2 separate regions of the Homo sapiens genome follow, and region 1 is linked to region 2. Evidence: fine-mapped expression QTL. Tissue or cell type: sun-exposed skin. Region 2 holds a variant in brackets; the other region holds the start of a gene. All regions are shown on one strand. Distances are between the middles of the regions. Region 1 holds the start of SSH3 (slingshot protein phosphatase 3). Region 2 overlaps KDM2A (lysine demethylase 2A).

The links. PIP is the estimated chance that this variant, and not a neighbour inherited with it, causes the effect.
Region 1: SSH3 starts here. The variant in region 2 is the best candidate, but not a certain one, in a credible set for the expression of SSH3 in sun-exposed skin (GTEx, PIP 0.53).

Annotation. Positions count from the first base shown.
Region 1 is chr11:67,301,030-67,305,545 of GRCh38, forward strand. It overlaps SSH3 (slingshot protein phosphatase 3), which reads left to right and starts at 2,501. Exons shown (of 14, transcript NM_017857.4): 1 at 2,501-2,662; 2 at 3,089-3,126; 3 at 3,744-3,978. The coding sequence starts at 2,597. It overlaps ANKRD13D (ankyrin repeat domain 13D), which reads left to right. Exons shown (of 15, transcript NM_207354.3): 11 at 1-118; 12 at 253-369; 13 at 459-622; 14 at 703-794; 15 at 1,090-1,455. The coding sequence ends at 1,303. RefSeq lists enhancers at 1,651-2,168, 2,169-2,688.
Region 2 is chr11:67,177,762-67,181,761 of GRCh38, forward strand. KDM2A (lysine demethylase 2A) reads left to right here. Exons shown (of 21, transcript NM_012308.3): 3 at 2,318-2,456; 4 at 3,559-3,637. Among named protein-coding and RNA genes, the nearest start is that of KDM2A, 60 kb to the left of the region's middle. The variant T/C (reference allele first, on the strand shown) is at 1,659.

The sequences.
Region 1 (4,516 bases), 120 kb after region 2:
TCCCTGGGTGACCAGGTGACCCCCATCATCGACCTAATGGCCATCAGCAACGCTCACTTTGCCAAGCTGCGCGACTTCATCACTCTGCGCCTTCCACCTGGCTTCCCCGTCAAAATTGGTGAGAGGCTGGGCACAGGCAGCGGGAGGACCTCAGGCATGGCACCCTCCCTCAGCGCAGTCCCTGGAGAGCTGCAGGGGCCGGAGGCACAGGTGGCTCTCCGCCAGGGCTCAGGCGTGGCTGTCTTCTCACAGAGATTCCCCTTTTCCACGTGCTCAATGCCCGCATCACCTTCAGCAACCTGTGTGGCTGTGATGAGCCCCTGAGCTCCGTGTGGGTGCCGGCCCCCAGCTCTGCTGTTGCCGCATCAGGTACCCCAACGGGAGGAAGAGGGAGCCTGCACAGCTTTCTGGTCACCAAGCCCCGCGGGTTGAGCGTGGCCCCTCTGCCACCTGCCTAGGGAACCCTTTCCCGTGCGAGGTGGACCCCACCGTGTTTGAAGTGCCCAACGGGTACAGCGTGCTGGGCATGGAGCGCAACGAGCCCCTCCGGGACGAGGACGATGACCTCCTGCAGTTCGCCATCCAGCAGAGCCTGCTTGAAGCGGGCACTGAGGCGGAGCAGGTGGGACTTGCCCAGGGGGTGGGCTCTGGCCTCTGCAGCCACACGGCAGAAGTGACAGCTGTGGGCTCTGGTGGCTGCAGGTGACCGTCTGGGAAGCCCTGACCAACACCCGGCCCGGTGCCCGCCCTCCTCCCCAGGCCACGGTTTATGAGGAACAGCTTCAGCTGGAGCGGTGAGCCCCTCATGGGGCTGGCTGGGTCCCTGTCCCCCCAGCCCTGGCTTGGCGGGGAGGGGGATAGCAGGAAGGTGCTAGGACCCCAGGCCCTCTGCAAGGCCACCCTCTGTCAGCAGCGCTATCTGCCACCAAAGGTGGTGTGAGGGGTGGGGAAGCAGGGCCCTGCCTTGTCTCCTCTGCTTGCCACCCTGTCTTTGCCTTTGTCCTCCAAAGCCGGTCCCCAGCCCCTCGGCTTCTGCCCCAGCCTTGGCGCTCACTGGCCTGTTCTTCCCTCCCCTGCCCTGCCTGGAAGGGCCCTCCAGGAAAGCCTGCAGCTGTCCACAGAGCCCAGGGGCCCAGGATCCCCTCCCAGGACACCCCCAGCCCCCGGTCCACCCAGCTTTGAAGAGCAGCTGCGCCTGGCCCTGGAGTTGTCTTCACGGGAGCAGGAGGAGCGGGAGCGGCGCGGGCAGCAGGAGGAGGAGGACTTACAGCGGATCCTGCAGCTGTCACTCACTGAGCACTGAGCCATAGCCCCGGGAGGGCTGGCCAGGCCACTCCCTGCCCGCTTTTGTAATTTATTTATTTATAAACTCTCTGCTGCTGAGCTTGGGGCCTGGAGCCCCAGGAATGAGCAGGCAGGGGAGACTGAGATGGAAATAAAGAGACTGTCGCAGCAGGGCTGCTCTGCTCACTGGGCTGGAGCGGTGGGGACCCTGAAGGTGGGGCGCTGTGGAGAGGCACTGTGGATGGCGGCCTCAGACCTGGGCTTGAATCCTGGTCATGGTCCCCTTAGCCTATCTGAGCCTCAGTTTCTTCAGTTGTAAAATGAGGAGACCACCCCCCACCCTCCGCCCCTCAGGGCTGAAAGGAGCTGGCGAGAGTCACGTGTCCTTACCAAGCAGGCGTCCTGTGAAAGTCAGATCCCCTGTGCCCTGTCCCACCTGCTGGGGACCCGGTTCGTCCTGCCACCCAGCCTAGTCTTCTGGAAACCGGCCCACGTGCCTGCTGGGGAGGAAAAGCCTGGGTCCCCAGGCACCATTCACCTCCAGCTGGGAAGAGCCCCGACGCCGACCCCTGCAGCCAAGCCCAGGCCCTGGCCCTGACTGCGGCTTGTTCTCTGCGGGTGGGTTTGCGCAAGTCACTTCCGCCTGCGTAGCTGGAAGCCCTGCCCTGCTCGCCTCCGAGGTGGACCTGAGAGCCCCTCATGGGCTTCCTGGGTTATTTGTAAACCCCAGGCCGTTTTCCCCGGAAGCCTGTCTTCCAGTGGTTCCTGCGGAGTGGGAACGAGAAGGCCGACCAGCAGGGAGAAATGTTTGGGGTGGGGGCCCTTGGCCGAGGGCGCGCCGTGCCTGATCCTCTCTAGACCTGTCCCCCACCTCCCCACCTCAGCTCTGCCTCCCTAGGACCCGCCTCTGCAGGGCACAGGACGCTGGAGGCCCAGAACAGCTCAGGTGCTCCCGCTGGGCCGGCCCGGGCCGGGCGCTTCCTGGGAGGGGGACCAAACTCCCGGCCTTCAGCTCTTGCCCTCCGGGTCTCCGGGCTCCGCACCTGCGCCCGCCCCCGGCCTCGCCCCTGACCTGTGCCCAGGGGCTGGGCGGGCCGAACAGCGGAGACCGGAGGGGCGGGGCCCGGCCGCCCTGAGAAGCTCCGCGGGCCCGGCTGGGCGAGTGTCTGGCCCTTTAAGGGCCGCCCCCGAGGAGGTGCCAGGCCCGGGTGGCGCCGTCCGTCCTTCCTGGTCCTGCGGGTCCAGGACTGTCCGCGGGGTTGAGGGAAGGGGCCGTGCCCGGTGCCAGCCCAGGTGCTCGCGGCCTGGCTCCATGGCCCTGGTCACAGTGAGCCGTTCGCCCCCGGGCAGCGGCGCCTCCACGCCCGTGGGGCCCTGGGTGAGTGTGGTCCGGCCGTGGTGCCGCCCACGCAGTTGCTGCCCCGGCTTGGGAGCGCGTCCTGCCCGCCAGCGGGCTCCTCTCGAACGGGGACATGAGGAGGGGGCCCCGGGGCTCGGGCTGGAGGGCGCTGGGGGCCTCGAGGGTCTCTGGTACTGGCGCCGGGGCACAATCCAGAGCCCTGCGCGCCGCCCGGGCTGCGGAGGCCCCGATCTGAGCGCGCCCCCCGCCACACTCGGCGCCCACCCAGCCGACCTGGCCTTGGGCCGGGGCTCCACGGGGCCTCCCGGTGGGGCGTGGACTGGGGTGGGAAGACGATTGGCATCTGGCGCCTTTTCTGGCCTCCCCCAACTCTAGAATTCCTGAGAGAGGGGAGGGGACAGCCCTCCCCGCCCTCACCCTGCCCTGGGGCTGCTCTCTCCGCAGGACCAGGCGGTCCAGCGAAGGAGTCGACTCCAGCGAAGGTGAGCGCCACCTCCCCCACGCAGACACTTCCGTCTGCCCCGGGCCTGGCCACGGCCGTCCTGGGCTCCAGCTGCAGGGACAGAAAGCTCCCCGGAGGACGCGCAGCGAAGCCCACTGCCAAATTTGTGGGGCAGCGTTCCCGGTGGGGCCGGCTGGTGGGCTCGCGGTAGGGCGGCCTTTGCCTTCACCCTCCCCCTGGTCAGCTGGGGCTTCCTCATCCACTGCCCTGGGCTTTGGCTCAGGTGGTGGCCACGGGCCGAACGGCAGGAGGGCATGATGGGCCTGAGGACTCCTGGGTCCCCGACCATGTTCCCAGCAGCACTTGAGTTAAACAGGTGGGAGGGGAAAAGGAGCAGCCCCCTCTCCCCACAGATGAGCTAGAGTAGAGGGGCTGAGAGCTTGGAAGCCCCCAAGACTGGTTCTCAGCAATATTGCCAAGGGGCCGAGGGGTTAGAAATGCAGATGCTCAGGCCTCCACTCTAGACCTATCGACCGCGTGGGGGCCCATGAATCCGTGTAGACAAGGGCTGCAGGTGAATGTGATGCATGCTAGACTTTGAGAGCCCCTACCCTAAGGGGAATGAGGAGCCATGACAGTTGCCCACTGCCCTGCCAGGCAGAGCTTTGCGGTGCTCCGTGGGGCTGTCCTGGGACTGCAGGATGGAGGGGACAATGATGATGCAGCAGAGGCCAGTTCTGAGCCAACAGAGAAGGCCCCGAGTGAGGAGGAGCTCCACGGGGACCAGACAGACTTCGGGCAAGGATCCCAGAGTCCCCAGAAGCAGGAGGAGCAGAGGCAGCACCTGCACCTCATGGTACAGCTGCTGAGGCCGCAGGATGACATCCGCCTGGTGAGGGCCCATGTGGAGCTCCGGGGGGTGGGGGGAAGAGACACGCCTGAGGGCAGAATGGAGCCCTGTGTATGTGTCTGCTTGGGGAGCAATGGTGTGAGGGCAGGGGGCAGCCTGGGGAGTGTTGGGGTTACCCATATCCCAGTGACCCTGCTGTTTCAGGCAGAGATGTTTTGTTTTTTGTTTGTTTTTTTTTTGAGATGGAGTCTCGCTCTGTTGCCCAGGCTGGAGTGCAGTGGCGTGATCTCGGCTCACTGCAAGTTCCACCTCCCGGGTTCACACCATTCTCCTGCCTCAGCCTCCCGAGGAGCTGGGACTACAGGCACCCGCCACTATGCCTGGCTAATTTTTTTTGTATTTTTAGTAGAGATGCGGTTTCACCGTGTTAGCCAGGGTGGTCTCAATCTCCTGACCTCGTGATCCGCCTGCCTCGGCCTCCCTAAGTGCTGGGATTACAGGCGTGAGCCACCGCGCCCGGCCTGGGCAGAGATATTTTGACAGGGCGAGGTCATGGCTGCAGGTCTCTGGAAGGGAAAGA
Region 2 (4,000 bases):
ATACATAAACCGGTACACAGTCATTTATTATGTACTATTCCTAACAGTATGTGCTACACTTTTACATGACTGGCAGCACAGTTAGATTTACACAAGCATTGCCACAAACGAGAGTAATGTGTTGTGCTATGATGTCCTGATGGCAACAGTGTCACTAAGAGATAAGCATTTTTTAGTTCTACTGTAATCTCATGGGAACACTGTCATATATGTGCAGTTCATATATATTGACTGAAATGTCATTATACTGTGCATGACTGTATTAAAAGGTAAACTTGCAGTATAAGCAACATTTTGAAAGTGACTGCTTATTAGATAGAATTCTCATACCATACAGTCTCCTCATTTAAAGTGTACAAGTCAGCTGGGTATAGTGACTGAAGCCTGTAATCCCAGCAGTTTGGAAGGCTGAGGCGTGCAGATCGCTTGAGCACAGGAGTTCGAGACCAGCCTGGCCAACATGGGAAACCCCTGTCTCTACTAAAAATAAAAAAATCAGCTGGGTGTGGTGGTGTGCACTGGTGGTGTCAGCTATGGGAGGCTGTAGGTGGGAGGATCACCTGAGCCTAGGAGGTTGAGGTTGCAGTGAGCCTTAGTGGAGCCACTGCATTCCAGCCTGCGCGACAGAGCACAACCCCATCTCAGAAAATAAAAAATAAAATAAAGTGTACAATCCAGTGGTTTTTAGTATATTCACAGGGTCATACAAATACCACTATCTAATTCCAGAACATTTTCATTGCTCTTGAAAAAACCCATACTATTAACAGTCACTTCTCCCATTCTTCATTTTCTCTAGCCCCTGGCAACTATGAATCTAGTTTCTGTCTCTATGGATTTGCCTATTCTAGACATTTTATTTAAATGAAGTCATACAATATGTGGTCTTTTATGACTGGCTTTTTTTTTATTTGGCATAATGTTTTCAGAGTTTATCTATGTCATGGCACATAGCGTTATTTCATTCCTTTTTGTGGTTAAATGATATCTCATTGTATAGGTATACCACATTTTGTTAATGCATTCATCAATTGATTGACATTTGGGTGGTTTCTATCTTTTGGCTGTTGTGAATAACACTAGTGTAAACATTTGTGTATAAGCTTTTGTTTTGAAAAGAAGAACGTATGTTTTCAGTTCTTTGGGTTATATACCTAGGAGCAGAATTGTTAAGTCGTACGATAACTTTGTTTAACTTTTTGAGAAACTTTCAAACTGTTTACCAGTGTCTGCACCATTTTACATTCCCACCAGCAATGTATGAGGCTTCCAGTTGGTCTGCATTCACATCAGCACTTGTTATTGTTTATCTCTTTGATGATAGCCGTTCTGGTGGGTATAAAGTGGTATTTCATTGTGGTTTTTGGTTTGCATTTTTCTAATGACTAATGAGAATTGAGCATTTTTCATGTGCTTATTGTACATTTGTATATCTTCTTTGGAAAGACATGTTATCTTTAAAACTAAATATTGATGGTGTGCTATTTGGAATGCTGGGTTTTTTTTGTTTTGTTTTGTTTTGTTTTTTTGAGACGAAGTTTTGCTCTTGTTGCCCAGGCTGGAATGCAATGGCACGATCTTGGCTCACTGCAACCTCCACCTCCCAGGTTCAAGCGATTCTCCTGCGTCAGCCTCCTGAGTAGCTGGGATTACAGGCA[T/C]GTGCCACTACGCCCAGCTTATTTTGTATTTTTAGTAGAGACATGGTTTCTCCGTGTTGGTCAGGCTGGTCTCTAATCTCGAACTCCCGACCTCAGGTGATCCGCCTGCCTCTGCTTCCCAAAGTACTGGGATTACAGGCGTGAGCCACCGCACCCGGCCTGGAATGCTGTTATTTAGATTAACTTTCTTCCTTTATCTGAGACAAGGGTTTTTGATCCATTCATTCAAATGTGTTTTTGAGATTGCTTTACCAAGCTAATTTTAAATACAGCTCTCCCTGTGAAAAAATTATATTTTGTATCCTGGCTTGAAATTTCTATGAAGACAGTTTGTGCCCACTCTGATAAACAGTGATAGACAAATGAAATATTTAGTAGACCCTCTTTGGTCCTGTTTTTATTGTGAATTTATATCTCTAGGCTCAAAGAATTAGCAAGGGTAAAATTCATAGAGGACCCAGTGGCTCATTGAAACTTCATTATATTCTGTGGATTCTGAGAATATCAGCTATCTTGAGAGAAAGAAAAGATCCATAAGGCAAGGAAAATAGCAACTGAGTTTGAAAGTAGCACTTTGCACATGTAGGGAAATCTATGACCACTTGTAGGTAGGCATGAAAAAGTGCATGATTTCATCAGTATGTTCCTTTCTTTCCTAGCGTGGTACCATGCGACGACGCTATGAAGATGATGGCATTTCAGATGATGAAATTGAAGGAAAAAGAACTTTTGACTTGGAAGAGAAACTGCACACCAACAAATATAATGCCAATTTTGTTACTTTTATGGAAGGAAAAGGTCAGTATTGTTTTGGTTCCAGCTTACAGTCCTTTGATGTGGGAAGCCATAGACTCTGAGCATTGGGGGTTTAGCCTTTATCCAGCTAAAATATTGCCTGTTGATGTTATCTATCTATTTTCTCTTGTTATACAATGCCATTTGCATGCACTTATCCCCCAGTCCTCCCACCCTGTGAGTCATTCTCTCCTATATTAGAAGTAATCTTTTTATTAGGGCAGGAGTATTGTTGGATTTTTTTGCCTAACGGCCTCTTCCTCCTTCTTCTATCCCTTGGTTTAAATTTAATTAAAAATAGTACAATAGAAATCCTTTTATGTATATATCTACCCCACCAAAACTGAGGGTGGGATTCCATGCGCACCGTGCATCTTTGATCCTTGGCAAACTGACAAGGATGTCATATATGTATTGTAGTGGTCAAAATTAATGTTTTGTTTACTTTTTTTTTTGGAGACGGAGTCTTGCTGTGTCACCCAGGGTGGAGTGCAGTGGTGCGATCTCGGCTCACTGCAACCTCCGTCTCCTAGGTTGAAGCAATTCTCCTACCTCAGCCTCCTGAGTAGCTGGGATTACAGGCACGTGCCACCACACCCGGCTAATTTTTTTTTTTTTTATACTTTTAGTAGAGACGGGGTTTCGCCATGTTGGCCAGGCTGGTCTCGAACTCCTGACCTGAGGTGATCTGCCCACCTTGGCCTCCCAAAGTGCTGGGATTACAGGTATGAGCCACCACACCTGGCCCTTTTTTTTTTTTTTTTAACTCTTCAGAGACAGGGTGATGATAATTTCTGTTTAGCATTTATAAGATGACTCACTATTAGTAGTCCTATCCCCATATTATTTAAGCTCTAAATTTCCTGTGGAAATTTAGACTTGGAATATAGACTTGGAAAACCCCTCAAGCGTTGCTTCTCAATGTGCTCTCCATATTTTCTAAGAGATGCTTCTTACTAAGCATATATTTTATTGACTAACAGCATAACTATATACACAGAATAACAAACACCATTTATACTGTATTACTTAGGATCCTTTTTATGGTCCTTTTATCGTTTTTAATTATACCACTTATCTTTCTAATATTTTCCTATGGTGACAGATTTTAATGTAGAGTATATTCAGCGGGGTGGCTTGAGAGATCCTCTGATTTTCAAGAATTCTGATGGACTCGGAATAAAGTAAGTGTTTTCAGCCTGGCTGGATGTAGTTGCAAAATGGCCTCGTTACACCCAGGGCAATAAACAGTGGTGGTATTGATAACCCAAAACAATAGTAATTGAAAATAATTTCCCACTTTGTTTTAAAAGTATATGCTTTTCTTTTGATACACAAGTGTTTCATATTAGAGGTAAATGAGAAAATATAGATGAACCAAAAAAAAAAAAACAACAAATTTAAATCTCCTGAAATCTACCACCCTTAGGTAGATCATTAACATTTTATTATGTATTCTTTTTTCCTGTGCATATGTGTAAATATATAATCACCTATATTTTTAAAATAATTTCAAACCTGATTGTGAATATTACTGTGTCTGGGGA